4 linked regions of the Homo sapiens genome follow. The protein of the gene in region 1 binds, or shares a complex with, the protein of each later gene. Each region holds a gene or a part of one and is shown in the gene's direction. Other genes may lie near its edges.

The links.
Region 2: POLR3G (region 1) and POLR3K share a complex: the UniProt entries of both Homo sapiens proteins name them as parts of the RNA polymerase III complex.
Region 3: POLR3G (region 1) and POLR3D share a complex: the UniProt entries of both Homo sapiens proteins name them as parts of the RNA polymerase III complex.
Region 4: POLR3G (region 1) and POLR3F share a complex: the UniProt entries of both Homo sapiens proteins name them as parts of the RNA polymerase III complex.

Annotation. Positions count from the first base shown.
Region 1 is NC_000005.10:90,491,847-90,498,879, forward strand, and holds part of POLR3G (DNA-directed RNA polymerase III subunit RPC7), read left to right. Parts: intron 1-3,830; coding exon 3,831-3,887; intron 3,888-5,809; coding exon 5,810-5,860; coding exon of another isoform or gene 5,861-5,889; intron 5,890-7,033. UniProt on the Homo sapiens protein: DNA-dependent RNA polymerase catalyzes the transcription of DNA into RNA using the four ribonucleoside triphosphates as substrates.
Region 2 is NC_000016.10:45,886-50,620, reverse strand, and holds the end of POLR3K (DNA-directed RNA polymerase III subunit RPC10), read left to right. Parts: intron 1-3,063; coding exon 3,064-3,191; 3' UTR 3,192-4,214; downstream 4,215-4,735. UniProt on the Homo sapiens protein: Core component of RNA polymerase III (Pol III) which synthesizes small non-coding RNAs using the four ribonucleoside triphosphates as substrates. Can mediate Pol I proofreading of the nascent RNA transcript.
Region 3 is NC_000008.11:22,240,815-22,248,136, forward strand, and holds the start of POLR3D (DNA-directed RNA polymerase III subunit RPC4), read left to right. Parts: upstream 1-4,318; 5' UTR 4,319-4,369; intron 4,370-4,630; 5' UTR 4,631-4,635; coding exon 4,636-4,800; intron 4,801-6,406; coding exon 6,407-6,450; intron 6,451-7,042; coding exon 7,043-7,194; intron 7,195-7,322. UniProt on the Homo sapiens protein: DNA-dependent RNA polymerase catalyzes the transcription of DNA into RNA using the four ribonucleoside triphosphates as substrates.
Region 4 is NC_000020.11:18,463,566-18,470,411, forward strand, and holds the start of POLR3F (DNA-directed RNA polymerase III subunit RPC6), read left to right. Parts: upstream 1-3,824; 5' UTR 3,825-3,941; coding exon 3,942-4,003; exon of another isoform or gene 4,004-4,106; intron 4,107-5,378; coding exon 5,379-5,496; intron 5,497-6,846. Other genes in the region: DZANK1 (double zinc ribbon and ankyrin repeat-containing protein 1), read right to left, coding at 1,685-1,814, 3,297-3,302. UniProt on the Homo sapiens protein: DNA-dependent RNA polymerase catalyzes the transcription of DNA into RNA using the four ribonucleoside triphosphates as substrates.

The DNA of each region.
Region 1 (7,033 bases):
ATTGACTGTGCAATTCAAATAAATTATCACTATTATGTCATCATATAGTTTTCCTATGGTGTTGTCCAAAGCATTACATCTGTTTTTTAAGAAGTTATAAAGTCTTCAGAGACTCTTATGTTTGTAGTTGCTCTGTTTTAATTTTCATTTAATACAATTGAAAATTTCAAAAATTTTTAATTTTTTGCTCATAATGTCTAAAATTGACAGAAAAACATGTTCCACAATTCTTAGACGAATCAGAAGTCAAATGCAAAGAGATAGATAGCTCTCTGGATGCTCATGATGATGATGAAATTGATTGTATAAGCAAAATCTCAGACTGTGAGTCTTCAGATGACAGTGTCTTCAATGAATTTTCTCAAATTCAAGAATCAATGAGTAAACACTGTATCTCCAAGAATTAAAAAGGAATTATGGTGGCCTTCTACAGTCAATCTTTGAAAAAGAACTCATCATGTAATACTTTGTAACAAAAACCTGGAACATCCTGTTTGCTAAAATGAGACGATCATTTTTGTTCTATGATATTTGTGCACCAAAATTAATTTGATGTGTTTTGTAACTGACAAATGCTGAACATAAAGGCAAAGACAACAATGATTGAAAGGAAATTGATTATATAGACATGAAATTGTTTTCTGGATTGATTGTGTTAACTGGTGATTATAAATTTAATAATGAAAATATTTTGCAAGTATAGAGCAAAGAAGATGGCTGGGCCATCCTCTCTTCAATAGAAGTATGAGACATCAGCCGGGCGCAGTGGCTCACCCCTGTAATCCCAGCACTTTGGGAGTCTGAGGCAGGTGGATCACGAGGTCAGGAGATCAAGACCATCCTGGCTAACATGGTGAAACCCCGTCTCTACTAAAAATACAAAAAATTAGCCAGGCGTGGTAGAGGGCACCTGTACTCCCAGCTACTCGGGAGACTGAGGCAGGAGAGTGGAGTCAACCTGGGAGTGAGCCGAGATTGTGCCACTGCACTCCAGCCTGGGCAAGACTCCGCCTCAAAAAAAAAAAAAAAAAGTATGAGACATCAAAGTTTTTTAAAGTATTGCATTTTGGATATGTAAGTACAAGAAGAAGAATTGGAAGTAGTGATAAGCTAGATTCTACTAGAAATGCATTTATAATCTGAAATTATTTAGATGATACACATATGAGAAAACCAGAGGAAATTATAAGTTAGAACCTATTAAAGATGTCTTTGGAATCTGGGATCAGGACGTACAGAAGGCATATATTCTAGGTTTGTATGTGGCAGCCGATGCACAGAAAACTGCATTCAAATGACTTTGCCCATTTTGGTTAAATTTACCTTCAAAATCAGTAAAACATGTAATATAAATTTGGATTTGCTATACTTAATTGCTTAGTAAAATCTCCAATAACTTTATTTATTTATTTTTATTTGAGACAGGATCTCGTTCTGTCACCCAGGCTGGAATGCAGTGGCATAATCTCAGCTCACTGCAGCCTCCACCTCCCAGGCTCAAGTGATCCTCCCACCGTAGCCTCCCAAGTAGCTGGAACCACTGGCATGAGCTACCATGCCCAGCTAATTTTTGCATTTTTTGTAGAGATGGGGGTTTCACCATGTTGCTCAGGCTGGTCTCGAACTCCTGGACTCAAGGGATCCAGCTGCCTTGGCCTCCCAAAGTGCTGGGATTACATCCTGAGCCACTGTGTTGGGCCTAGTTTTATTGATTTTTAAGTAACAGCTTTACTGAGACATAATCCACTATATAAAATTTACTTTTTAAAGTGTACAATTCAGTGACTTTTAATATAGCCACAGAGTTGTGCAATCAACACCACTATTTAATTTTTTTTTTTTTTTTTTTTTTTTTTTTTTTTTTTTTTTTTTTTTTTTGAGACAAGAGTCTTGCTCTGTTACCCAGGCTGGAATGCAGTGGCATTATCTCAGTTCACTGCAACCTCCACCTCCTGGATTCAAGTGATTCTCTTGCCGCAGTCTCCCAAGTAGCTGGGATTACAGGCACGTGCCACCACACATGGCTAATTTTTTTGTGTTTTTAGTATAGATGGGGTTTCACCATGTTGGCCCGGCTGGTCTTGAACTCCTGACCTATTAGCAATCTACCTGCCCCAGCCTCTCAAAGTGCTGGGATTACAGGTGTGAGCCACTGTGCCCAGCCACTATCTAATTTTTTAGATGCTTTTCATCATCTAGAAAAGAAATTCTGTACCCTTTAGTAGTCATTCCCTACTCTCCCTCCTTCCAACCCATGGCACCAGAAATCTGCTTTCTGTCTCTAGAGATTCCATGTCATATAAATGGAATGATGTAACATGTGTCTTTGGCTTCTTTCACTTGCCATAATGTTTTCAAGGTTCATTCATGGCTTAGTACATATGAGTGCTTCATTCCTTTTTATGGCTGAATAATATTCCACTGTATGGATATATGCCACATTTTGTTTATCCACTCATCACTTGATGGGCATTTGGGTCAGTTCACTTTTGGGATTACATGAGTTATCTTGTCATAAACATTCATGTACATGTTTTATGTGAAGACATGTTTTCATTTATATTGGGTATATACATAGGATCATATGGTAACTCTGTATTTCACATTTTGAGGAACTGCCAAACAGTTTTCTAAAGTGGCCACCCGATTTTACATTCCCATCAATAATGTATGAGAGTTCCAATTTTTCCATATCCTTGCCAACATTTCTTATTTTTTTTTTATTCTAGCCATCCTAGTGGTTGTAACACAGTATCTCATTGTGGTTTTGATTTGAATTTCCGTAATGATTGGTGATGTTGGACATCTTTTCATGCTTTTTGTCCATTTTTGTATCTTCTTTAGAGAATTGTCTATTCAAATCCTTTACCTCTTTTTAATTGGGTTCCAATAATTGGTTTTCAATATCTGTTCTTTTATCTGTTATCTTTTTTATTTATTCTCTGTATTTCATTATTTGAAATTAACTTAAAAATATTTTAAAATATAAAAAGTGGTCTACTGTACCCAGAGAAAAAGGGTAAAAACTGTTTTTTTCCGGTATACTGAGGGTTAAAATTATTTAAAATATGGAAACTGTTTTGGAGAAAATTCTTAAAAAGAAGTCATTGTGTTACAAATTCTAGGAATCTCTCATTTGTGCTGACTTCGTTTTATAGATTAAAAACTTGGCAAGATTAGTTAAAACATTTTACCTGAAGTCAAACAGTTAAAATACCTAGAAAAACCTGATCTCTTGGTCTCTGATCTACTACTTATTTTGGTTATCTTTCTCTAATACGTGGTTGTATTATTTGGAAGCATATACTTGACATAGAAGAAAAATCAGTATATATTTGGTCCTTGATTTTTATCCATTCATCTTTAGTATTACCTTCCCTTTTTCATGCCTAACTCCTGAACTACTTTTTATGATGAACATGGCTTCAAGCTTTTGTGTGATAGTGTTGCTTTCCAACTTGTGCTGCTGGAAAAGAGTTTGTGCCCTCCTTAAGGGTGTTTCTTGTGATAAGGTGGACTAGTCTGAATCAAGAGCCGCAGTTATGGCTTTACTGGTTTTGGCAAGCTCAGAGGGTTCCTGCAGAGTTTTCAGCAATTGGCATGTAGGGCTTGCAGCTTGCTCATTTATGCCTCAGATCAGTAACCCCTCACCAAGTCCATCCTTGCCTACCCCTACCCTTTTTCCCATTCTCTTATGTACAAAGGTGGGAAACTCCCTGTATGTAAAATTAAAAATGTTGTCTGTTGTTTTCAATAATCTTAAAGGAATGGCTTAAGTTCAGGGTTACTGTTGATTTTCCTAATGAGTTCTTTATTCTTTTTTCCCCTAGATATTGAAAGGTATAGTAAAAGATACATGAAGGTATACAAGGAAGAATGGATACCAGGTAACTACAAAACACACAATATGAAAACAGTTTTTAAAGGCTGTCTCTCTCACCTCATGTTTTTTTTTTAGAATAAGTTTTCTATTTTTACCATAGGAAAACTGAGTCTGGTTCTTTTATTGTGATTAATTAGTAATCTGTTAGAAACTAAGGTGAAAAGATTTTTATGCTAAAACAAGGAAGAGTTGAAGTGCTTTTGTGGAAGTTCTTAAAATATATATATATGTATATTTTATTTTATTTTATTTATTTTTTTGAGATGGAGTCTTGCTCTGTCGCCCAGGCTGGAGTGCAGTGGCACGATATCGGCTCATTGCAAGCTCCACCTCCAGGGATCATGCCATTCTCCTGCCTCAGCCTCCCGAGTAGCTGGGACTACAGGCCCCCGCCACCATGCCCAGCTAATTTTTTGTATTTTTAGTAGAGACGGAGTTTCACCGTGTTCGCCAGAATGGTCTTGATCTGACCTCATGATCCGCCCGCCTCAGCCTCCCAAAGTGCTGGGATTACAGGCATGAGCCAACACCCCCCACCCTTAATATACATTTTTTACAAAAATAGGACAGGCCAAACAAACCCTTTGAATTTTCCAATTTAATTAGCCACAATCACAATTTTAATTTGTAATACCAGAAAGCACAAATACTATGCTCCTGAGCAATTTTAGAGCATTTGAAGAGAAAGCAAAAATCTCGTTTTAAAGATATTTTAAGCCAAGCTCATGGATCTTCCTTTCTTTTAAGCAGACATAGACTAGTTTTAGTTGTTAGGCTTCTTCAAAAGAACCATATCCAAAAAGAAGCTTTACCTTGGGTATGGACAAGTTAGAAGGGTCTGTAAAGGAGATCTCATCCCACTCATTCATTTTGCAAATAAAAACAGTTGTCATAGAAATAAAGTGACCTGTCAGGCCATGTGGCCAATACTGTTAGAACCCAGGTCTTCTCATTTTAATTCACATTCTTTTTATGTCTCTGTCCTTGGTCTTTTATGGAAACTCCCCTTATGTAAAAACATAGATGGCATTAACAGCCTTATCATTTTCACAGATTATAGTACTATCTTTTCAGTGTTGGTAAGGTTGGGGCACCCTGGAAACAACTTAGGTCTCTCATTTCTTCCGTTTCATTAGTATTCATCTCTCAAATGATTCTCTACATATTCCGTCATGATCTAAAATGAATAGCTTATAAAAACTAAAATATATTCAAAGCAAAATTTATTTTTCAGGTAAAATGACTTGAGATTTAAATGCTTTGTAAAAATGCTCCAAATTTTCTTTAAAAGCAGGCAATATTTTTAAATCAACTTTTATGTTGCTTCCATTTCCTGTTTAACTCTATGCTTAAAAATTAAAAGAAAGTGACACATTAGAGGAATTATTTAGCTAATACAAGCAAAATTATTTATTGGAGGAGATTTGTTTTTGACAGCTATTTATATTTTTAATTTTAAAGTTTTCAGATATTACAATTGTTTATTTCATTTTGCATGTTTTGGGATTATGGTAACATCCTTTTGAAAAAAAAAATTTGTTGCATAAGAAATATATCAACTACAGAATATATCAACTACAGAAAACTTATGAAATATAAAGTGGTCAAATAAATATAAATAATACTTAAGAAAAACTGTCATAATTCCAACACCCACAAATAATTACCATAAGGTTTCCTTCACCAAAAATTTTATAGCACTATTTCAGAGCTATTGTAATAAATTTTCTTTATAGGAGAAAATATATCATTGTCTGTAATATTTGGATTTGGTTTTTATATGTTTCAAGCTAAATTTGTAAAGTCAGATACTAAGGCACTTTATTGTCATTTTCTGGACAACTGTTGTGTCCTTCAAATAGTTATGTTCAATGCCACAAATTCCTAGAGGAAACTGCAATTTTTTATTTTTTATTTTATGTACAGATTGGAGAAGACTTCCAAGAGAGATGATGCCAAGAAATAAATGTAAAAAAGGTACATTGACTAATATAATAGTAATTCAGGTAGGAAAAGGTTATTTCTTACATTCTGTTAATATGGATTTGTCAACCCAAAGTTATACTCACTGTTCTTAATGCTTTTCTTATTTTGAGCCAGACAAGGGATCTCATGCCTGTAATCTCAGCATTTCGGGAGGCTGAGGTGGGAGGATCACTTGAGCCCAGGAGTTTGAGACCAGCCTGGGCAACATAGTGAGAACTTGTCTCTACAAAAAGTTAAAACAAGTATTAGCCAAGTGTGGTGGCATGCACCTGTAGTCCCAGCTACTTGGGGGTCTAAGGTGGGAGGATCACTTGAGCCAAAGAGGCAGAGGCTGCAATTAGCCTAAACTGCACCACTGCACTTAAGCCTGGAAGACAGAGCAAGACCCTGACACTCTGTCTAGGACACTGACTCTCTCCCTCTCTCTGTCCCCCCATGTATGTGTGTGTGTGTGTATATATATGCATTATAACTATTTTGCTAAAGCTTGTTTTTTGTTGTTTGTCTTTTGGGTGTTTTTTTTCTTAGTTGTTGCCTTTTCTTTGTGTATGTCTTATTTTTTAATTTTTAAATGTTTTATCTTTTTTTAAATTTCTGTGTTTATTTTAGATACAGGGGTACATGTGCAGGTTTGTTACATTGGTATATTGCACTCAGGTAGTGAGTGTACTACCTAATAGGTAGTTTGTTAACTCACTCCACCCCGTCCTCCCCTCCCGACTTTAGTAGTTCACTGTGTCTGTTGTTCCCATGTTTATGTCCATGTGTGCTCAGTGTTTAGCGCCCACTTATAAGTGAGAACATGCAATATTTGGTTTTCTGTTCCTGCATTTATTCACTTAGGATTTTCCTTTAGTTATGGAATTGTGGAGCTGCTAAGAAAGACTTTTCAATTATTGTAGACCTTTTCATTTGCATAACTGCAGATTTTTTATTATACTGGCTACATTATAAATTATTAACTAAAACATTTTAAAATTGGGAAACCAATAAAATGGAGCTTTATGTTGTATAGAAGAATGCCAAAGTGAATGTTTACAGTTTGTTTTTCTTTAGTAATTTCATTCAGTAAATAGTTATCTATTATTGCCAGACATTGTGCTGACAGGAATAAAACTGAGCAAAGTGGGAATAATCCTTGTCCTCATGGAGCTTGTAGTCAAA
Region 2 (4,735 bases), on another chromosome or scaffold:
AACCCAGGAGGCAGAGGTTGCAGTGAGCCGAGATCACACTACTGCACTCTAGCCTCGGTGACAAGAGTGAGACTCTGTCTCAAAACAAACAAAACCCCTTTTGTCTATATAAATTACCCAGTCTCAGGTATTCATAGCAGTGTGAGAACGGACTAATACACGCTTCTAATATAGATTTTTAGAAGTTAATACCAGTGAGCATTAAACTGCAGATTGGGTAAAATACATGTTTATTGCATGTCTGGTAGACATAGATGTGGCCAGGAGAGGAAAGGGGAAGACGTAAATGTAAGTTATATTGAGAGGTGAGAGAGATAACTGATGGTTAGTACTGTGGTTTTCCCCCTATAAAAGAACATATAGGCTGGGTGTGGTGGCTCACGCCTGCAATCTCAGCACTTTGGGAGGCCGAGGCGGGCGGATCACCTGAGGTCAGGAGTTCGAGACCAGCCTGGCTAACACGGTGAAACCCCATTTCTGCTAAAAATACAAAAAATTAGCCAGGCGTGGTGGCAGCACCTGTAATCCCAGCTACTCGGGAGGCTGAGACAGGAGAATCGCTTGAACCCGGGAAGTGGAGGTTGCAGTGAGCCAAGATTGCATCATTGCACTCCAGCCTGGGCAACAAGAACGAAACTCTGTCAAAAAAAAGAACATACAAATCTGCTATGTGAAAAAGTTAGCAGCTGGCACGGTGGCTCACACCTATAATCCCAGCATTTTGGGAGGCCAATGTGGGCGGATCACGAGGTCAAGACATCGAGACCATCCTGGCCAACATGGTGAAACCCCGTCTCCACTAAAAATACAAAAAGTAGCTGAGCGTGGTGGTGCCTGCCTGTAATCCCAGCTACTTGGGAGGCTGAGACAGGAGAATCGCTTGAACCTGTGAGGCGGAGGTTGTAGTGAGCTGAGATCGTGCTATTGCACTCTAGCCCAGGCAACAGGAGCAAAACTCCGTCTCAAAAAAAAAAAAAAAACAAATTAGCCAGGCTCAGTGGCGCGTGCCTGTAGTCCTAGCTACTCAGGAGGCTGAGGCAGGAGAATTGCTTGAACCAGGAGGCGGAGGTTGCAGTGAGCCGAGACCATGCCACTCCAGCCTGAGTGAGACTGTCTAAAAAAAAAAAATCTTTTTACCTAATGTCAGAAATAGAGTGTTTGAAGCCATTTCTGTCAGGTGTAGGATAAGTTTCTCAAAGTGAAATCGCTTTGAAGAGTGCAATGGTGTGATCTCGGCTCACTGCAACCTCCACTTCCCAGGTTCAAGTGATTCTCCTTCCTCGGCCTCATGAGTAGCTGGGATTACAGGCATGCGCCACCACGCCCAGCTAATTTTGTATTTTTAGTAGAGATGGGGTTTCTCCATGTTGATAAGGCTGGTCACGAACTCCCGACCTCAGGTGATCTGTTGGCCTCAGCCTCCCAAAGTGCTGGGATTACAGGCCTGAGCCACTGTGCCTGGCTTTTTTTTTGAGATGGAGTCTCTTTTGCCCAGGCTGGAGTGTAGTGGCACGATCTCTGCTCACTGCAAACCTATGCTGCCCGGGTTCAAGCGATTCTCCTGCCTCAGCCTCCCTAGTAGCTGGGATTACAGGCACCTGCCACCACGCCCGGCTAATTTTTGTAGTTTTGGTAGAGACGGGGTTTCACCATCTTGGCTAGGCTGGTCTTGACCTCCCGACCTCGTGATCCACCTGCCTCAGCCTCCCAAAGTTCTGGGATTACAGGCAAGAGCCACCATACCCGGCCTCTTCTCTTCTTTTCAGCCCACACCAGAATCGCCCTTAATGCTCAATTCTTTTTTTTTTTTGAGATGGAGTCTCACTCTGTTGCCCAAGCTGGAGTGCAGTGGCGCGATCTCGGCTCACTGCAAGCTCCGCCTCCCGGGTTCACGCAATTCTCTTGCCTCAGCCTCCCGAGTAGCTGGGACTGCAGGCACCCGACACCACGCCTGGCTAATTTTTTGTGTTTTTAGTAGAGACGGGGTTTCACCATGTTAGCCAGGATGGTCTCGATCTCCTGACCTCGTGATCCGCCTGCCTTGGCCTCCCAAAGTCCTGGGATTACAGGCGTGAGCCACCGCGCCCGGCCCTTAATGCTCAATTCTTGACAATGCAGGCTTTTCCCAGCATTTACTTCAAAACTCTTCCACCATCTAACCATTACTTAGTCTTAGGCATTTTGTTACAGCAGCACAAAATGGACCAAAACAGTCACCTTCCATGTTACGTTTCCAACCAGCCTTCAGCTGGATTTGAGAAGAACCATGGGACTCAGGGAGGGGAGGGGGAGAGTGTGTGAGTCACAGGTCTCCCAGATTCCCTTAGTGTTACAGCGTGGTGGGAATGACATCACTGTTTGTAGATCTACCCTTGTCAAGGGGGATCAAATGAGCAGGGAGGTTCTTTACCATCTTTAAAGATATTAAGTAGTCTGGGCACGGTGGCTCATGCCTGTAATCCCAGCACTTTGGGAGGTTGAGGTGGGCGGATCATGAGGTCAGGAGTTCGAGACCAGCCTGGCCAACATAGTGAAAACCTGTCTCTACTAAAAATACAAAAAAATTAGCCGGGTGTGGTGGCGGGCAACTGTAATCCCAGCTACTTGGGAGGCTGAGGCAAGGAGAATCACATGAACCCGGGAGGCAGAGGTTGCAGTGAGCTGAGATCGCCCCACTGCACTCCAGCCTGGGTGACTGCGAGATTCCATCTCAAAAAAAAAAAAAAAAGATATTATAGTAATACCTACTTTTTTTTTTTTTTTTTTTTTTTGAGTGCAGTGGCACGATCTTGGCTCACTGCAATCTCTGCCTCCTGGGTTCAAGCGATTCTCCTGCCTCAGCCTCCCAAGTAGCTGGGATTAAAGGCGCCCGCCACCACGCCTGGCTAATTTTGTATTTTTAGTAGAGATGGGGTTTCACCATGTTGGCCAGGATGGTCTCGAACTCCTGACCTCAGGTGATCCGCCCGCCTTGGCCTCCCACATATTAAGTAATACCTACTTTTGACAGCCATGAGTAGCATCTTTTTTTAAATGTGGTCACTTCTTTTTTCTCATTGCCAGAGTCGTGTCCCAAATGCGAACATCCTCGTGCTTACTTCATGCAGCTTCAGACCCGCTCTGCAGATGAGCCGATGACCACCTTCTACAAGTGCTGCAATGCTCAGTGTGGACACCGCTGGAGGGATTAGGGCCAGGATGGCCCAGCTGCCCTAGTGTGTGCTTGCCTTGTCCCTCGGGGTAGATGCTTAGCTGGCAGTATGAGTTGTGTGTCCTGAGGGTCTTTGCTAGTGTGGTGGAAAGATAAACCTTTTGAGGTGAAGAGCCAGGGGGTCAGGAAATATGGCCTATCTGCCAGGCAGGGTGGATGAAGTCATGAATGTCTGGGAGTTTTTCTGTGTGGGGAGGAGACAGAGACCCATAACTAAATATGCTCTGTGTAAAGTCCTATTCTTTCATCTTCCACTTTATTGGCAGTTGACATTCCCTTACTCCCAATCAACACTCTTAAATATTTGTACTGTTTGTAAAACTTAGTACATGTCCCTAAATATTTAACTGTTACTTGTAAACTTGTGTAATTTATTATTTATTTTAATCAAAATTCTGAATATTTCATTTAAATGAAAGTTGGAATATTGCCTTCTCAGTGTTTTAAATAGCTTAAGAGGTAGAAAGCAAACCCCAAATCACAGTGATCCCAGAATAGACTACATACTTACATTTGAACAGGCTACGAAAATGTTAATCACCGGGATTTCAATTTCTTTCTTTATTCCTATTCTTACTCCCTTATTCATTTTTTTGAACCTCCCCTGATTTGCTTCCTCGGGTTGCTTTAAATGTATAAGATACTATTTATTTATTTATTTATTTTATTTATTTATTTATTTATTTAAGACAGAGTCTTGTTCTGTCGCCCAGGCTGGAGTGCAGTGGTACGAATTCAGCTCACTGCAACCTCTGCCTTCCGGGTTCAAGGGATTCTCCTGTCTCAGCCTCCCAAGCAGCTGGGACTACAGGCATGCACCACCACACCTGGGTAATTTTGCATTTTTAGTAGAGATGGGGTTTCTCCATGTTGGTCGGGCTGGTCTCCAACTCCTGACCTCAGATAATCTGTCTGCCTCGGCCTCCTAAAGTGCTGGGATTACAGGCGTGAGCCACTGTGTCCCACCAATCTTTACATTTAATATGACTATTTTCTTATTGTTTGAACATGTTGATCAGTTCCTGATCACAATATGGGGCCTATCCTATATGGGTCCTAGAGTGGTTGGATTTTATTTTTTAACCTAAACACAGACCCTAGGTTTGAAAGGGTGTACTGGGTCTGTTAGACTTATAGGCATTTTTTTTTTTTTTAATACTTAGCCATGCATCTCTTGCATTGTCACTCCTTTAGGAGTGCATCTGTCTTCTAAGGGTTAGCTCTCCTAACTCTTTTAAATCCCCTCTAATTTGATTAATGATTGGGGGCAGCCTTCTGAACAATATTTCACGGGACGAATACCCAGTTTGTTTGGTGGGGGTGTACCTGACTTGGAGGAGGACCATGGGCGAGACCCGATCTTATTTTAGATGAGTTTCTTGACAAAATTTTTTCAGCAGCTGTTTGAGTGTCTGGTTCGTGCACTGTACTTGAGCTCTGTGGCCTGTAGGATGTACGCAATTTCCACTTTATTTTTAATAGTCTAGTTAAGTCCTGAACTCTTGCAGCCACAAATGTTGGTCC
Region 3 (7,322 bases), on another chromosome or scaffold:
CTAACACGGTGAAACCCCGTCTCTACTAAAAATACAAAAAATTAGGCAGGCATGGTGGCGAGCACCTGTAGTCCCAGCTACTCAGGAGGCTGAGGCGGGAGAATGGCATGAACCTGGGAGGTGGAGCTTGCAGTGAGCCGAGATTGCACCACTGCACTCCAGCCTGGGCGACAAAGCGAGACTCCGTCTCAAAAAAAAAAAAAAAAACTAAAAAAGCTACTACCTGGTGAACTTCAAAGCCCAACAGAATGAAATCAAAGCTATTTCATCCAGTGCTCTAATTAGAAGCTAAGGGCTGCTGCGTGTAGCTCTGTAGGGAACAGGAAAAGGGTATTGGTTTGGTTTGATTATTGTAAAATCAACATGAAGAAAGAAGTTGAAAAGGATCTGTTTAGAAAACAACATAACAAAATATTAATATATTAGTAAATTGGCAAACAAAGTTCTAAATTTTAAAAGCCAATACTCAAAAGGATGTGGCCAAAAAATTATATATTCTCTTTTTTGTTTTTTTGAGACAAGGTCTCCTCTGTCTCCCAAGCTGGACTGCAGTAGCACAATCAAGGCTCACTGCAGCCTTTGACTCCTGGGCTCAATCGATCCTCTCTCCTCAGCCTCCCAAGTAGCTGGGACTACAGGTGGGTGCCACCAAGCCCTAAAATTATATATTCTTATATACTACCTCTCTCTCTGTGTGTGTGTGTGTGTGTGTGTGTGTGTGTTTACACACACATTAATTTCGGAGTCAATAAAAGTTGTTTTTTGTTGTTTTTTTTTGAGACGGAATCTTGCTCTGTCTCCCAGGCTGGAGTCTACACTCCAGCGCAATCTCAGCTATCTGCAACCTCCGCCTCCCGGATTCAAGCTATTCTCCTGCCTCAGCCTCCCAAGTAGCTGGGACTACAGGCACATGCCACCACGCTAGGCTAATTTTTGTATTTTTAGTAGAGACGGGTTTTCACCATGTTGGTCAGGCTAGTCTTGAACTCCTGACCTCGTGTTCCGCCCACCTTGGCCTCCCAAAGTGCTGGGATTACAGGCGTGAGCCACTGTGCCCGGCTCTTTTTTTTTTTTTTTTTTTGACACAGAGTTTCGCTCTTGTTGCCCAGGCTGGAGTGCAATGGCGCAATCTTGGCTCACTGCAACCTCCTTCTCCCAGGTTCAAGTGATTCTCCTGCCTCAACCTCCCGAGTAGCTGGGATTACAGATGCCCGCCACCAGGCCTGGCTAATTTTTGTACTTTTAGTAGAGACAGGGTTTCACCATGTTGGCCAGGCTGGTCTTGAACTCCTGACCTCAGGTGATCCACCCACCTCAGCCTCCCAAAGTGCTGGGACTACAGGTGTGAGCTACCACACCTGGCCAATAAAAGTTCTTTAAATTCCAACGGTAGAGCAAACTTGGTATTCAGATTCCTTCCAGGTTTGACCAAAAGTGCACATGAGGGTCACTGCTGTGAGCCCAGGAAGGGTGGGACTGGGCACCGGTTGATCCAATGTGGCTGTTCCAAGGCTGCCCACACAGCCTCACCCAGGAGTCCTTCAAAAGCCCACAATGTGTGTGTGTGTATATAGTGTGTGTGTGTATATACGTTTGATTATTGTATATACACACATTCTTAGTGTTGATGCATTTCAGCACAATCTTGTTTTTTTGTGGGGTTTTTTTTGTTTTTGTTGTTTTGAGACAGTCTCCCTCTGTCACCCAGGTTGGACTGCAATGGCGTGATCTCAGCTCACTGCAACCTCCGCCTCTGTGGTTCAAGCGATTCTTGTGCCCCAGCCTCCTGAGTAGCTGGGATTATGGGCGTGTGCCATCACGCCCAGCTAATTTTTGTATTTTTAGTAGAGACAGTATTTCACCATGTTGGCAAGGCTGGTCTGGAACTCCTGACCTCAAGTGATCTGCCCACCTCGGCCTTCCAAAGTGCTGGCATTACTGGCGTGAGCCACCACGCCCGGCCACACAATCCTTTTTGAAAGCAATTTAGCAATATGAATGAAGAACCATAAAATGTGCATGTACAAAATGGTACAGCCCCTGTGGAAAGCAGCTTGGCAGTTTCTTATAAAACTAAGATACAACTACCATATGACCCAATGATTGCACTCATGGGCAATTATCCCAGAGAAATAAAAATTTACGTTCACACAAAACCTTGTACATGTATTTTCACAGCAGCTTTATCCATAATAACCCCAAACGGAAAACCACCAGATGTCTTTCAAAGGGTGAATGGTTAAACAAACCATGAATACTCTGCAATAAAATGGAACGAACTATTGATACACACAACTTGGATGATCTGCGGGGAACAATGCCGAGTGAAAAAAGCAATCCCAAGAAGTCACATACTGTATGATTCCATTTATGTAACACTTTTGAAATAACAAAATGGCAGAAATGGAGAACAGATTAGTGGTGGGAGGAGGTGGGGGGAGGGAGGTGTGGCTATAAAAGGGCAACTAGAGGGATCCTTGTGGTGATGGAAACTTCTTGTATCTTAACTGTACCAATGTCAATATTCTGGTGGCAAGAGGTTACTACTGGGGGAAAACGAGTAAACAGTACTTGGGATCTCTCTACATTATTTCTTACCACTCTACATGAACCTACAATGTTCTCAAAATAAAAAGTTTAATTTAAAAAATGTTTTTAGAGATAGGGTCTTGCTGTGTCACCCAGGCTGGAATGCAAGGGCTGGATCATAGCTTACTGAAATCTCCAACTGCCGAGCCTTTCAAGCGATCCTCCCACCTCCGCCTCCCAAAGCACTGGGATTACAAGCCTAAGCCACCGTGCCTATCGCAAATATTTACTTAAAAAAAAATCTTCTTTTGGCCAGTTATCCCAGGACGGGAAATCTATCCCGGGAATATAATCCAAAAGAAAACAAAAACAAAAACAAAATCGAAAAAAAGCAAGTCAAATGTACCAGACATTCACTGCAGCATTATTTAAAACAGGGAAAAAAGAAACAATCAGGGAAATACTTAAATCATGATACAGCCACTGGAGAACTACGCAGTCTTTGATGTCGCAACAGAGAAATGTTATTTGAAAAAGGAGGATACAGGCCAGGCGTGGTGGCTGATGCCTGTAATCCCAGCACATTGGGAGGCCGAAGCGGGTGGGATCACTTGACCTCAGGAGTTCAAGACCAGCCTGGGCAACATAGTGAAACCCCGTCTCTACGAAAAATACAAAAAAAAAAAAAAAAAAAAAAAGAAAAAGAAAAAATTAGCCGGGCGTGGTGGCATGCACTTGTAGTCCCAGCTACTCAGGAGGCTGAGGTGGAAGCATGGCTTGAGCCTGGGAGGCAGAGGTTGCGGTGTGTTGATCGCACCACTGCACTCCCGTCTGGGCAACAGAGAGAAACCTCGTCTCAAAAAAAAAAAAAAGAAAGAAAAGAAAAGAAAAAGGACACGAAATTGTGATACGACAACTCTGTGAAGACTACTAGATACATTACAAAATTTTTAATAGTAGTACTCTACGTGGCATTCTGGTAGAAATGATTTCCTTTCCTCAAACTCCCCATAATATTGTTACATGGTTTTTATACGGTCTGGGGGATGGGGGATAACATTAAATGACACCTTTTATGTTAAATCACAAACGCTGGAGTCAACAAAAGTTCTTTAAATTCCTCCAGCAGTAGAGCAAACTTGGTATTCCAATTCCCTCCAGGCTTTGACCAAGAGCGCACACGAGGGCCACCGCCTTCGTGATCAGAAGCGGGTATGACTGGGCACCGGTTGGTCCACTGCGGCTGTTCCAAGCTGCCCCCACAGCCTCACCCCAGGACTCCACCAGGAGCACAGGGAAGGGGTCCCCGAAAGTGGGCGAGGTCGCTGCCCGGAGGTAATGACCACTCCAAGGTCACCATGGAGAACCCGCAGACAGGGCTCGGTGTGGCCCAGGACTCCCCGACTCTTAAGTCCAGGTCTCACTCTCTGCGCCGCGCCGCGCCCCTCGCCCCATCCCGAGCAGCTACCCCGAAGCTCCCAGGGGCTCCGCCGAGGCGAATCCTCACATTGCGGCGTGGTGGCCGACAAAACCCGGGACCCTGATCTTGGCGCCTCCACGCCACCGCCCGGAGGCCAAGACCCCCGAGCGCCGCAGCATAGCGTAGCCCAGACCAGTCACCTCATCCTTTTTCGCCCTCTCAACCCAGCTTTTCCCGACTCCGGGAAGAACCGGGAAGAGAAGGCGGAGGGGAGCGAAGCGCCGCCTGATAAATACTGTGGCCCAGTCCCGCCCCCCTAACGTCACTTCCGCCCCGCGCCAAGATGGCGGCGCCCAGGCCCTGCCACGCAGACTTCCGCCCGGCGCGGAGACCGAAGGCTGGCGGCTGGTCGCGTTGCAGGTGAGGTTGTGACGCGCGGTGTGGAGCCGCGGCCCGGGTGCGTCCCTGTCTGGTTCCTGGGCGGGGTTCCTGGAGAGGGCGTGTCGCGAGCCAAAGGCTCTCACCTGGGTGGTCCCGGGAGTCTCGCCACGTGGGAGGGGAGGAGCTGAGAGGCCACTGGAGGGACGCACCGACTGGGGGACCGGAAAGCAAGGGGGTGGGGTTCCGCCAGGGTCCGCGTGTCAGTCCCCTCTGGTGATCTCGTCGCCCCTTCTCTCCCAGGCAACATGTCGGAAGGAAACGCCGCCGGCGAGCCCAGCACGCCGGGAGGGCCCCGACCTCTCCTGACTGGGGCCCGGGGGCTCATCGGGCGGCGGCCGGCGCCTCCCCTCACCCCCGGCCGCCTTCCCTCCATCCGTTCCAGGGACCTCACCCTCGGGGGAGTCAAGAAGGTACCCAACGGCGCGTTTCTAAAGAAACTCAACTACCTTGAATTCCAAGCCCCAGGATTCAACTAATGTTTGTGTAGGACCTACTGTGTGTCAGGACTGTCGTTGGGCCTCTCAAGCCTACCCCTCTTTAAATTCTAGGGAGTCTGTCCTACCTTCAAATCTAGGTACTGAGTACAAGATGTTGAAATGACTCCCAGAGGTGGTTGAAGGGCAGAGAATCCTAATAAGTTAAAGTCGTTCAAAAGCAATTTGAACAGTGTTTATTTACTTTTATTGTGTGTTTGGACATCTTTAAGAAACCCATGAAAGCCAGACAGGCATAAACTTCGCAGTCTTAGAGGGTTCAGAATTCACCATCTCTGTGTGCAAACTTTTTATCTAGAGTATGATGAATCCTAGGTATGGCATTCGAGGCTCTGTGGCCTCTCCCATGTGTATATGACTGTGGATGTCAAGAGTAGCCCAGAAAGGGGTGGGGTCAGGATGACAGAAGAACAAAGCAGGTTTTGGTTTTGGTTTTGGTTTTTTTTGAGAGGAAGTCTCGCCGTTGTCCCCCAGGCTGGAGTGCAATGGCACGATCTCAGCTCACTGCAACCTCTGCCTCCCAGGTTTGAGCGATTCTCCTGCCTCATCCTCCTGAGTAGCTGGGATTACAGGCGCCCGCCACCATGCCCAGCTGATTTTTGTATTTTTAGTAGACACAGGGTTTTGCCATGTTGGCCAGGCTGTTCTTGAACCCCTGACCTCGTGATCCGCCCGCCTGCCTCGACCTCCCAAGGTGCTGGGATTACAGGTGTGAGCCACCGCTCCTGGCCGAATAAAGCGGTTTTTTGGTTTTTTGTTTTGTTTTTAAGGGAATCTCTTTCTGTCGCCCAGGCTGGAGTGCAGAGGCACCATCTCAGCTCACTGCAACCTCCGCCTCCCGGGTTCAAGCGATTCTCCTGCCTCAGCCTCCCGAGTAGCTGGGATTACAGGGGCCCGCCACCGCGCCCAGCTACTTTTTGTAGTTTTTAGTAGAGACGGGTTTCACCATCTTGGCCAGGCTGATCTTGAACTCCTGACCTCGTGATCCACCCACCTTGGCCTCCCAAAGTGCTGGGATTACAGGCATGAGCCACAACGCCCAGCCATAAAGCAGTTTTTAAAAACCTAACTTTGCCTTGGAAAATTGTGGTGACAGTCCATAGTCACCTGATTGAAAGTGTTGGCAGATCTATGGCCTTCCCTACTTAGGCCTTGCTGCTAGAGCTGTTCCCCCATGATACTGACTGGTCTCTATAGCAGTTTGAAGAGAAGAGGTGAGACCAGAGAAATTCCTTTGCTTTTAGAAGTCCCAGAGGATCTTCTTTCAGAGGCAGAACCTAAGGCTGCTGGTTAAAAGTGGGTTTTGGTGCCCCCTTCTATGTGTAACTCCACTGCTACCACACTATGACATTCCTCCTTTTCAGGCACATGTGTATCTATAAAACTGACAGCACTGTGGAATGTGCCAACGAGAGCCGTGGTGGCCTTGGTCTGTAGAAGATGCCCTTTGGGAATTTTTATTTTCCTCTGTACTTTGGGGTCAGAACCTAACACATCAGTGACTCCTGTATTTTGCTTTCAGAAAACCTTCACCCCAAATATCATCAGTCGGAAGATCAAGGAAGAGTAAGTAGCTAGGCCTTCTGAATACTTGCCCCTTATTTACTTGCTCTGAATTTGGGGCTTTGGGGGAAATAACTAGGTTTGTAGCTCCAAAATTTAAATTTATATCTTTAGTTCTTTTCACTAGTGATTTTCAACCCTGGCTCCTAGGTGATTCTGCAAGCTTTAAAAAATAAATAAATAAATAAATAATTACTGGTGTCTAGGGTTCCATCTTTAGAAATTGTGATTTAACTTGCTGGCAGTAGAATGGAGTGATTCTCTTTGTTGCCCGAGTTGAGAGCCAATAGTTTAAACAAAGATGTATCACACTTTCCCTGAAGTTCCTTTGCATTTCTGCCTTCCTGCTTTCAGTCCCAATGCAAACAAAAATCTATATTTTTGGACAAGAAGGTAAAGTAAAGCAAACTGAAAAAATCCTGCCTCATCAAGGAAGTGAGAAAAGTGCTAGAATTAGGATTGGATTCTGCTTCTCATGGTGTAAATATTGGCTCAAACTCTCCACTGTTTTGGAGTGAAGTGGTATGGGAGAGTAAGGCCAGATTTTGGAGACACAGTGAGTGAGTGGTTTCCCTTAATCCATTCTTTTTTCCAGGCCCAAGGAAGAAGTAACTGTCAAGAAGGAGAAGCGTGAAAGGGACAGAGACCGACAACGAGAGGGGCATGGACGAGGGCGAGGCCGTCCAGAAGTGATCCAGTCTCACTCCATCTTTGAGCAGGGCCCAGCTGAAATGATGAAGAAAAAAGGTATAAGGAAGGAATCAGTGAATTTCAGTTCAGACTGCCCCAGAGAAGGGCGAGAACAGTGGAATTTCCCCACTCCCATTTCCGTTTTCCTTGCTGTTGGGCATCTTCCTTATCGATCCCTAGTGACC
Region 4 (6,846 bases), on another chromosome or scaffold:
TTTGTTACTGAATTGTGAAAACTATTTATTTATTTGATATTTACATATTAGGGAATTTTGATACCCTACCATTCATATCATCTTTTGTCAATAGTCACCCAACTTCTCCTAAGAATTATGGGCACATACATTAAAATGTTTAATTTGGTTTGACAGTTTAAAAAATTGTATCAGCTTTTAAGCTAAAGGAGAACACAGATAATAATACATATGCTTAGTTAGAACTCTTGGTCTAAGCAGCACAGGGGTCATAACATAAATGCAGATAGTTTGTACACATTTCAGTTATTAAAATATATAATTGGTTAAAAAAAGGCAAAAATTGGAATTTCAAAGTCTTTTTTACACATCTATTTGTTCATATGTTTTACCTGTGAAACTTTCCTTCCTTATGTTAATTATATATGTGTATGTATATATATGTGTATGTGTAGATATACACACATATTTAAGATTTTGAAGAATACGTATTAGCAGGATATACATTCACTGCTTTATTTCTTTTTTCTTTTTCTTTTTTTTTTTTGAGATGGAGTCTTGTTCTGTCTCCCAGGCTGGAGTACAGTGGCGCCATCTCGGCTCACTGCAACCTCCGCCTCCTGGCTTCAAGCAATTCTCCTGCCTCAGCCTCCCGAGTAGCTGGGATTACAGGCATTGGCCACCATGCCTGGCTAATCTTGTATTTTTAGTAGAGACAGGAGGCTGGTCTCAAGCTCCTGACCTCAGGTGATCCACCTGCCTCAGCCTCCCAAAGTGCTGGGATTACAGGCGTGAGCCACCAGGCCTGGCCCTCACTGCTTTATTTCTGTAGTTAGAGTTGAGATTTATTTTCACATTACTATATGCCAAACCCTGTGCACCTCATACATACACGAACCTATTTATCCTCACAATGGCTCTAAGAAGTAGATATTATTATTCCTGTCTTACAGTGAGGTAACAGACTCAAAAAGGCTAAGTAATGTACCCAAGGTCACTAGAAGTTGTCAAGGCAGGGATTAAGTCTCCAACCTGTCTGACTGGAAAGCCTGTATCAGTAGGTCAAATTTATTATACCAGCTAAATAATGAGCATATTGGAAAAGTTTGGGGAGCACCGGGACTTTTTTTTTTTTTTTTTTTTTTTTTTGAGACGGAGTCTTGCTCTGTTGCCTAGGCTGGAGTGCACTGGCGCGATCTCGGCTCACTGCAACCTCCATCACCCAGGTTCAAGCAATTCTCCTGCCTCAACCTCCTGAGTTGCTAGGATTACAGGTGCCCACCACCATGTCTGGCTAATTTTTGTATTTTTAGTAAGACAGAGTTTTGCCATGTTGGCCAGGCTGGTCTTGAACTCCTGACCTCAAGTGATCCACCTGCCTCGGCCTGCCAAAGTTCTGGGATTACTGGTGTGAACCACCGCACCCGGCCAGCACCGGGACATCTTACCTTGGCTAAGGTAAGTCAAGACATTGCTGAAACTATACAAATGAAAGGTTGGTCAAAGCTAACCATTTTAATCTAAATGTATACCACTCTATAAACCATCAATGTACAGCACTGTTTCAAATTTTAGAAGTTTTACAAATTTCCCAAAAAGCTGAGCAAAGAGTGAGAAAGCAGGCAAAGAGATAAACCAGCAACCAGATAACACAAGAAATATGACAATGTTATTTTAAACAATTTCAAACATATGTGATTCTTACCTGATTTCATTTCCAAAAGCGTATTGTTATCAATTTCATGGTTAGCTTTTCCAGGCTGAGGCACTCGTAATGGTATGATCTGAGGGACACACACTGAACCAGCAGTCATTTTCTCTCTCTCTCTCTCTCTCTATATATATATACATATAAATTCCAATGTACACAAAAGCTGAAGAGCAGCACTTAATTTAAATGCAGCAAAACTAGTTAAAACGAGAGAATACTGTTAACATGGCACTACAAATATTATTCCCTTTTTAATTGAAATAATAATTACATTTCATCTGTATTTGCTGTTGAGGTCTTGTGTGGGGTTTTGATTATCTAAATACCTCACTTCTGCGAAAGGAGCATGAATGAATGAGATGGGGAAAAGAAAGAAGTTACTTTAAAAGGACAAATTAAATGAGTAAGGCAAAACAGAGACTATCACTAACGCTCTGACTTGAGTTCCCTGTAAATCATTATCGCCTTTTCCTGCCTCTGGTGTGTGTCAGCTCTCTTGGCTTCAGGGCAAGTCATCATACAAGGGGAACAGAAGTAATTCTGTGTGTACCACAAAATGTTAGTTAGAGCTAACTTTTTTGGGAAAGCTCCGGGTTCACAGCCTTGCCATTATCACCAGAGCAGTTCTAGTATTTGAAAGCTGCAAAGACACTTTAGAAGGACTGCAGAGTACTACTTCTCAGTGGAAAGGAAGTTTGCAAGAATATAAACAGTGACCAATAAACACAAGCCTCCCGTTTCATCTACTGTATTTATAAATCCTGGTATTAATAATTAACTACCAGTATGAAAGCCTTACTGGTCTTTTTGGAGGTGAGGGTGGGGAGGAAGGTTGTCATAATTAATGCACAGAAGGTTTCAGGGGGAAAAAACGCTCACCTTAACACAACAACCATTTACATCTCTGTATTGCCTTTTCAAATTTCATTAATAATCCATAGATTTTGCCCAATTATAATCTACATATTCATTCCATTTTTATAGTCTACTTCTTGCATTCTCACTGTATTATTTAGTTTTCCCTGTACTTATTTATCCATTTGTGGCTGGGCATTTAGGCTATTTCTAGTTTCTTTTTAGTTTTGCCTGTTGCAGTTCTAATAATGCTGATCTGAACATGTCTGCAGTTTGAGCTTTGTCACAGACTGTATTCTCAAAAATGGGGTACCTAAATTTAAGGGGTGAACTTAATGCCTTGTTGGATAGTTCCGGATCTAGGGCCAAGAATATAAACTACAGATACTGACAGCACAACAATAGCTCCTACGGGAGTGTGGCTGGACTTGAGACTTGCCCATAGTCGCATTTCCATTTAAGTGAAAGGCAGATAAAATAAAAGTAGTTGAAAAATTCTAAATAAAAAATATGTAGGAGAGGAAGTAATTCGCGAGCGTCAACTAGCAGCTGCCCTTAGGAAGCTGGGGTGGCCAGTGGGCCCCACGCAAAGGGAATCAAGAAAAAAGGCGGATCCGCCAGGCCCAAATGGCAACGTGCAGTCAACAGGATCCCCAGACCCCTCAACTCTCCCAACGTGGACCGCCCCCTCGCAGCCCGGATCCGGAATCCCGTTTGGTTGTTCCCGCCCATCAGGGGCTGCCAAGGACACCTGCATCCTTTCGGCTGGAGTAAGGGAAGCTCTTCCCCTCCTCTAGCCGCCCTCCTCTTCCTCTAACCGCGGGGCCCGGGATCGGGACCCCTAATGCATCTCTGCCGCGCCCAACCCAGTCGCCAGCCTCTCACCGCCTCTTGCCTCCTCCTTCGCCGCCGCCCGGGTTACCACAGACGCGGCGAGCCGCGCCCCGCCCACTGGGTGCTGGGCAGATGATTGGTGGAGACTCAGCTTCTTAGCAACTAGACCGGCCCCTGCCGCTCCGCAGGGAGCCTGGTACCCGCCTGGAGTTCCTTTCCCAGTGCTTTCCCATAGGCATCTAAGAATATTCCTTCACAGAGTTGCCAAGTGCTAAAAGTTGGTTTCCCAACTCAGAATGAAGGAACCAGGCTTGTGCGTCCGATGGGCATTGACATTCTGGAAAACAAGAATAAGAAGCTGTAGCGGCGCCTGTAAGTGGGCCGGAGCAGGCGCAGCTTGGCCACCTCCCGCCGAAAGGCAAGGAAGGACCGGCTGCGACACGAGGAAGAAGGCCCCTCGGCCTCAGCAGAGCGCTATCCTCCACTGGTTCCCCGGGTTCCCCGGCTTGCTACCGGGCTGCTCCGTGCATCTTTCCCCCCAGGCGTCAGGAACTGCGCCCTCATGGCGGAGGTGAAGGTGAAGGTGCAGCCGCCTGACGCGGATCCGGTCGAAATAGAAAACAGGTAAACCAGTGAGGCTCCGGCTTGGCACTCCATCAGGCGCCCAGTCATTTGGGCAGCTGGACCCCTTCTCCGGGATCCCTTGGGAGTGGCCGGAGCGGGTTAGGTGAGCACGCGGGAAAAACGATTGCGGGGTTCTGGACCCACTTGTTCCTTCCCATCCTGGGAGAGCAGAACTCAAGAAGTTCAAAATGGGTTTGACAGCTTGCAACTTTGTGTAGCTGGCTGGCTTTGCCCTGATACTTTTGGGGAAGTTGTGATGACGTGCTGCCTTCCTACTTTGACGCGATCAGTGCTTTGAGAGGAGCCCTCGGCTTTCTTTCCCTGTAGAACACTTGTGAATACATGTTCTGATCCAGGATCGCTCTTGTCACTAAGGGAACGTCTATGACAAAACGTTTAGGCGGAGTTAGGGCGCAGTTGGTGATTACGAAGTAACATTAAGCCAGGTGGTTTCAGTGCAGTATTGAACTCAAGACTTTTAGGACACCCAAAGCCTCTGCCACTTTTATTTTTATTTGTTTGTTTGTGAGACAGAGTCTCGCTCTGTCGCCAGGCTGGAGTGCAGTGGCGCGATCTCGGTTCACTGCAATCTCCGCCTCCCGGGTTCAAGCGATTCCCCTGCCTTAGCCTCCCGAGTAGCTGGGACTACAGGCTCGCGCCACCACGCCCAGCTAATTTTTTATGTTTTAGTAGAGACGGGGTTTCACCATGTTGTCTGGGATGGTCTCGATCTCCTGACCTCGTGATCCGCCCGCCTCGGCCTCCCAAAGTGCTGGGATTACAGGCGTGAGCCACCGCGCCCGGCCCAGTTTTATATTTTACCGAGGCACTGCCACTCTTAGATTTTCACGTAGTTTTAAAAGACTCAACTTTCTCAGACTGTTAGGAATAATACATTTGTTGATGTCGACTAGGTGAAGATTTTGACTTTTTTTGTTTGGTAGGTATAATTCCAAAAACAGGCCCCATTATGGTGAATTGTCATAACAAATTTTGGCTTCCTACCAGAAACATCTGCATTTGCCTCCTGCTTGCAGATTTATGGCTTAACTTTGTCATGCTTATTACACCCGAGAAAACTGAAGTCTCAGCTTTAATATTTTTTCTGTGATTTCATTAGACTTTTGCTCTAATTTAAAGTTCTTATTAGTGAGGAAAAGAAATATTCTTAAATAACAATAATACTGTAAACATGTATTTAGAAATCATCTTCTTCAATTTCTAACATGCTTTGATCCAAAACCATCACAGAAACCCAGATTGTCTGCCAAATGTGAAAAAGGCACAGTTTCAAACTATTCTACTTGTATTTTTACCCCCACTGTCTCTTGAAACAGGTAACCATGAAGGATAACATTAATACCTTTGTTTCTAGGATTATAGAATTATGTCACCAGTTCCCTCATGGAATCACAGACCAAGTAATTCAGAATGAAATGCCTCATATAGAAGCCCAGCAGCGGGCAGTAGCCATCAATAGGTTGTTGTCTATGGTAAGGTGAATCTAACTATTTTGCATAATTACTGATATGCTGATTATCACTGGTTTTTATTATGTAGTTGTGATGGTTAATTTCATGTCAACTTGACTAAGATACAGGATTCCTACATATCTAGTTAAATATTTTATTGGAGTGTCTGTGTGGGTGTTTCTGAAAGAGGTTAGCATTTTGAATTGGTGAACGGAGTAAAGTAGATATGGGTCCAGTTGGGTGAGCATCATCCAATCCATTCAGGGCCTAAATAGAACAAAGTGGCAGAGGAAGATTGAATTCACTCTTTGAATTCAATCTTGAGCTGGGCTATGAATCTTGTGCCCTCAGCACTCCTGGTTCTCAGACCTTCAGACTTGGACTGGTATCTACACCATCAGCTCTCTGCTCTCAGCCCTTTGATCTGCAACACCAGCTTTCCTGGGTCTCCAGCTTGCAGAGGGCAGATGATGGGACTCCTCAGCCTCCATAATCACAGAGCAAATAGCTTCTGATGAATCTTTCAAGAGGGAGGTGTATCCTATTGGTTCTTTTTCTCTGGAGAACCCTAATACAGCAGTCATAAAACGAGAAAGTGTGTTAGGTTTGACTGATAAGACTCTAAACCAGGAAACAGCTCAAACTACCTGAATTGAAAAAAGAAGAAATAATTATGCGTTATAAGACAAATGAAATAAATGTATTATGGTATAACTGTTGTATTTATTAATTGCCACTGCCATACATAGGTCTAGTCTGTTCTCACCTTCTGTTTGCTTCCTACTGCTGGTGTTGGGCCATTTCCCATAAAATATTCCACCCCCCGATTTTCCTATGAGTTGTCACAGAGCCCAGTCATCAGGGTTTCATTCTCCACATTGTCACTCTGAGCATTTCAGGAAGCAAGAATGAGTCCAGTTGAATGAAGAATGTTGGGCTTTGGGGAGGAAGTGCAGCCTTAGCCCCCAGTGACATTGCAATGGAATTTATCAGTGAAGCCATTCTCCATCTGTCCAGAAACAAACAAGCAAGACTGTCTAAAAACCCACCAAGTGGTGCCGATGCTCTAAATCTCCCTTACTTTCCCTCATCACCAAAACATCCTTTTCCTAAGAGCATTTCAGTTTGGCTTTAGTAGCAGTTAGGTTAAAGAGTTCTACGCCAAGGCCTCATCTGAATGACTGATTTGTTTTTTAAGTCTACTAGCCTTGTTGGATTTCCAAGGGCTCTGGATGTGGAGATTTGGGGTCCGATGAATCTTTTCTTAAACCTTTCCCATCAATTTTCTAGCTCAGGAGTTGGCAAACTTTTTCTATAAAGTGCCAGACAGTATATGTTTTAGGCTTTGTGAGCCATATGATTTCTGTCACA